Linked DNA regions of Homo sapiens: region 2 is linked to region 1. Evidence: fine-mapped expression QTL. Tissue or cell type: whole blood. Region 1 holds a variant in brackets; the other region holds the start of a gene. All regions are shown on one strand. Distances are from middle to middle.

Evidence for each region. PIP is the estimated chance that this variant, and not a neighbour inherited with it, causes the effect.
Region 2: it holds the start of PPM1M, and the variant in region 1 is fine-mapped to the expression of PPM1M in whole blood (INTERVAL, PIP 0.92).

Annotation. Positions count from the first base shown.
Region 1 is chr3:52,459,891-52,462,571 of GRCh38, reverse strand. The region is part of intron 3 of NISCH (nischarin); the gene reads right to left. Among named protein-coding and RNA genes, the nearest start is that of NISCH, 5.6 kb to the right of the region's middle. The variant A/T (reference allele first, on the strand shown) is at 1,308.
Region 2 is chr3:52,244,649-52,247,329 of GRCh38, reverse strand. It overlaps PPM1M (protein phosphatase, Mg2+/Mn2+ dependent 1M), which reads right to left and starts at 1,571. Exons shown (of 10, transcript NM_144641.4): 1 at 1,282-1,571; 2 at 518-635; 3 at 102-356. The coding sequence starts at 1,505. RefSeq lists silencers at 1,228-1,287, 1,328-1,697.

The DNA.
Region 1 (2,681 bases):
GGCAGAACACATGTGGAACAATTTCAGAGAGGATACAGACAGTATAAAAGTTAAGAGAAACATTCCCCAGAGAGCTCCCAGCCTGGAGAAAAGGCTGACAAATCTTTAGGCCCCAAATGAAGATCTAATCCAGTGGTTTTCAAGTGGGGGGCAATTTTGCCCCCCAGTGGGACATTTGGCAATGTCTGGAGACATCTTTAGTTGCCATAGCTGGGTGGGGAAGTGCTACTGGCATCCAGTGGGTAGAAGCCAGGGTGCTGCTAAACAATGCATGGGACAGCTCCTTACAGAAACAAATTATCCAGTCCAAAATGTCAACAGTGCTATGGCTGATCAACTGTGGGTTTAATCCAACGATGGGTTCAATTGCTTTTTTAAATCCTAGGATTTATATAACCTAGGGACCTGTTTGATAATACTAATTCCAAATATGTCAAAACTTCTACAAGTAGCGGAGCCTGCCTCAAACCAGAACCAGATGTAGCCGGCCCCAGGCACATCTCAGGCAAACCAGTTTCAAAAGAGCAGTCCAGGCCTTTCCACCCTCAGAGCCAGGCACACGTGAGGCAGCCAGCGAGACCTCCTCTCCTCAAAGGCATAGGTCTCAAGCAAGGAATTAATACCGTCAAAGGACTGCATGTCAGGTTTCATCCCTAAATGGCTAACCAAAGCTTTCTTAAAATACAATATTTCTTTTTTTTTTTTTTTTGTGACGGAGTCTTGCTCTGTCGCCCAGGCTAGAGTGCAGTGACACGATCTTGGCTCACTGCAAGCTCTGCCTCCCGGGTTCACGCCATTCTCCTGCCTCAGCCTCCCGAGTAGCTAGGACTACAGGAGCCCACCACCATGCCTGGCTAATTTTTTGTATTTTTAGTAGAGACGGGGTTTCACCGTGTTAGCCAGGATGGTCTCGATCTCCTGACCTCGTGATCCACCCGCCTCGGCCTCCCAAAGTGCTGGGATTACAGGCGTGAGCCACTGCGCCCGGCCTTTAAAGTACATTATTTCTTAAAATACTAACCAGTAAAGTTTATCTGAAAGACTTGCATAAGGAATGCAAATTTTTTCTCACATAAGAAAGTATAAAAATATGTTTACGAAAGGGTATGTTGCTAACCCTATACTTGCTGGTATATGCTAAATAAAATCCAAAGCATATACACAGGTCCCATCTGTGAATGCTATCTACTTTTCCACCTGTCCCTGCCAAGCTCAGTGGCCCCAGGTTAGCACTCGCCACCAAATTTCTAGGCTCTTTAGTGATCCAAGAAAGGTTCAACTGTCTTACTCTGAAAAGAGTTTAAGGA[A/T]GTTGTTTCTTCTGTTTTTGTTTTTTTCTTTGAGACAGAGTCTCTGTGGCCCATGCTGAAGTGCAGTGGCATAACCTCGGCTCACTGCAACCTCCCCTTCCCAGGTTCAAGCGACTCTCATGCCTCTCTCCTGAGTAGCTGGGACTACAGGCATGAGTCACCACGCGCAGCTAATTTTTGTATTTTTAGTAGCGACAGGGTTTCGCTATGTTGGCCAGGCTGGTCTCGAACTCCTGGCCTCAAGTGATCTGCCTGTCTGGGCCTTCCCAAAGTGCTGGGATTACAGGCGTGAGCCACTGCACCTGGCCAAGAAAGTTGTATTTTAAATACAGCTGGGCTTTTAGGACCATAATCCACAGGTTACTTCAAGGTGAGCCTGAAAAGGGAGTGGATTCTTCCCTGTCTTCATCATATAAAAGGAAAACAAGTAAATATAAATTATCTGAAAATCTATCACTCAGAGAAAACTACTCTTAGCATTTTGGTATACGTAAACCTTCTAGAATTTTCCTAGACAAATATGTCCATATCAACTTGTTTTTTGTAAAAATGAGACCATAGTCAGCCAGGTGCAGTGGCTCACACCTACAGTCTAAGCACTTTGAGAGGCAGAGGTGGGAGGATGGCTTGAGTTCGAGTTTGAGGCCAACCTGAGCAATACTGCAAGACCCCATCTCTACAAAAAAATTTTTAAAATTAGCTGGGTGTGGTGGCATGCACCTGTAGTTCCAGCTACTTGGGAAGTTGAGGCAGGAAGATCCCTTGAGCCCAGGAGTTTGAGGTTGCAGTGACCCATGATCAGGCCACTGTCCTCCAGCCTGAGCAATGGAGTGAGACCCTGTCTCAAAAAAAAAAAAAAAAAAATAGTACAGCCATACAGTTGGATACTGCTTAAGAAAGTTGCATTTTTTTTGAGACAGTGTCTGCTGGGAAGACTGGTGTGCTGCTGGGATAATGATGGTGGAGCTGCAGATTTCTTTTTTGTTTTATTTTCCCAAAGAGCTGGGATCACAGGCATGAGCCACTGTGCTCAGCCTGGCTGTACCCTTTGATTTTTTTTTTTTTTTTTTTTTTTTTTGAGATGAAGTCTTACTCTCACTCTGTTGCCCAGGCTGGAGTGCAGTGACATGATCTCGACTTACTGCAACCTCTGCTTCTTGGGTTCAAGCGATTCTCCTGCCTCAGCCTCCCAAATAGCTGGGATTACAGGCATCTGCCACCATACCCAGCTAATTTTTGTATTCTTAGTAGAGACAGGGTTTCACCATGTTAGCCAGGATGGTCTTGAACTCCTGACCTCAAGTGATCTGCCCACCTCAGCCTCTCAAAGTGCTGGGATTACAGGCATGAGCCACTGCACCTGGCCTGATTTTT
Region 2 (2,681 bases), 220 kb after region 1:
AAGGATCTGGTGTGATGACCATGGGTATACAGAGATGCCATTTCCTGAGATCCCCGGGGCAAAATCTCCACTTCTTCCCCAGCCAAAAGCCACACACTCACACATTCCTGAAAGGCACTCTCCAATGCCCCGATCACCAAGTCTTCTGCCCTGATGCCCTTTTCCTCCACAAACTGAGGGTCACTGGGGCAGATGCAGCGGCCATTGAGGTGCATGGGGGGCTGAGTGGCCACCAAGCCTTCCACCACGGCCTCCAGCTGCCGGCGCAAGCAGGAGTGCAGGGTGTTGGCAGCCAAGATGGCTGCTGCAGGACCGCCGTGCCCATCGAACAGTGCCCAGTAATGGCCTGTCAGGAACTGCACAGGAAGGGCTCAGTGTCAGCCTCTGCCTGACTTCCCCACTTGTCCCCTGACGCAACCTAACTAGGACCTGGGGCAGCAGGGTAAGAACCTCAGCCTGCAGGTCGTGGCCCCAGCCTGTCGGAGGGATTCCAGCCAAGAACTCAGACTGCACTCACCTCCTCTGGGCACAGGGTCAGCCACTCTTCTTCAGCCCCAAACTCACATCTCCGGATGCACAGCTTCCCACAGGCGGCTTGATCCTCATTGAATTCAGATTTCTCTGCATTGATAATCCTGAGGCCGGGAAATGGTAAGCGACCCTCCAGGGACACACCTATGTCCCCATGGGCACAGGGACCCAAGCCAGCACAGGGAGAAGACCCCTCCCTCTGGGGCAACAGCTCCCCAGTGCTGTCCCTAACACACACTTAGACAACCACGATGTAAGCTTCCTAACTTCACTGGCCTCATGGCTAAGGTAAAAGTCAGGGCCCAGCTCCTCTGGAGCCTACCTGGTGACCCAGGGCTAGACGGTAAGGGTAGGTTGCCATTCCTGCCCCTGTCCTGTCGCAGCCCAAAGCCCTGTCCCATACAGCGCAGGTCATACCCAGGGTGAGATGGTGGGGGTAGAGGGCGAGGGGAAATCTCCAAAGCCCCGAATGCTGGAACTCTACCGAGTCTCTGGGCCTCATCTTGGAAGCCCCTGGGCTGCAGGTCCTTCCCGACCTCCTGTCTTCTCTGAGGGGGAGGTCGGAATCCCAAGGAAAACGCTGGGTCGGGATGACCGGGAAGTTGTCAGGATTCGGAGGTGAGGGCAAGAAGGGGCTGTCCACAGGTGGGTGGGGACTGTCACTCAGCTCCTCCCGCTTTCTAGGCGGGCGCAGGACCCGAAGCGGGTTCAGGCCCGGGCCTGAGCTGGGGGTCGGGGAGGGGCACTCACTCGGCGTAGCCTGCATTCCAGGGTAGCGTGCGTCCTCGTGCGGGGCTGCGCACGGGCCGGGAGTCTGGGCGGCGCGAGGCGTCGGCCGCCCCGGGGCTGGAGCTGGAGCCGCGAAGGAAGCGGGGCCGTCGGTAGGGCACGGGGCTGGCATGCGGCCCAGGCGGCCGCGGCGCGGGGAGCGGCTCCCCAGGCAGGAAGCGGCGCCGGAACCAGCCGGCGGACATGGCGCGGCGGCAGGGGGCTGCCCGCGGAGCGCGGGGCGCTAGGGCTGGGCCGCCCGCGGGAGGAAGAAGCGGGCCGCGGGCGGAGCCGAGGGAGGGGTGCGCCGGCGGGAGGCGGGGCCGGGGGCGCGCAGACGGGAGGCGTCGCCCCCCAGCCCCGACCTCCGCCCGGGAGTGCGTGCGCGGCTGGTTCGCTGACTCCAGGGGTCAACGCTCGCGACCGCCTGAAGAAGCCCACGCCGGCATCAGCCCCATTTGACAAGCAGGAAAACCGAGGCCTAGAGAGGCGAAGTCGCCTGCCCAGCGTCCCACAGTAGCCAGGGAGGACTGTTCACCCACGCTTGCGGGGCACTGGTGGTTGAGAGGAAAAGTCCCCCACACTCCGCGGGGCCAGCGTCGCGCAGATCCTCGGACCTCCTCCTGCTGGGTGGGGACCTGACGCAAGGGGAAGATGGGGACAAAATGAGCTGGGAGGTGTCAGACCCCCACATTGAGTAAATGCCACCGAGCACAGGTTCCTTCAGGCGGCCTCCAATCCTCTCCACCCCGGCCTGCCACCCTCCACCCCAGACGGGCTTAGTGGGCACCTTGGCTTTCCCCGTCCTGAGAGGCTGCTGCCACCCTCGAGGACAGTCTTCCAAATGGCTGTCCCTGCATTCAAGATGTCTTCGCGGAATAGACAGCAGGATCCTTACTGGACTGTGAGTGAGTGACGGACAAGAGAAATCTGTGTGAGTGTAAAGGGGAATCCGTGGTCCCCCAAAGGCTCCAGCTGGTCCGAGTTCAGACCTGGGACGGAGGGAAGTGAAAGACGAGGAACCATCTTGCGGTCTCTCAACCACTGGCTAGCTGTCACCAGGCGGTCAGCCGCAGTGTCCCCTTCACATCTGCGAGTTAACAAAGCACTTTGTCACCCATTTGTCACTCAAGTCCAACTCCCTGTGCAAAAGTGTTACTTTGGCCGGAGGCAGTGGCTCACGCCTGTAATCCCAGTGCTTTGGGAGGCCGAGGCGGGCGGATCACTTGAGGTCAGGAGTTCGAGACCAGCCTGGCCAACATGGTGAAACCCCGTCTGTACTAAAAATTAGCCAAGCGTGGTGGTGTGCGCCTGTAATCCCAGTTACTCAGAAGGCTGGGGCACAAGAATCGGTTGAACCCAGGAGGCAGAAGTTGCAGTGA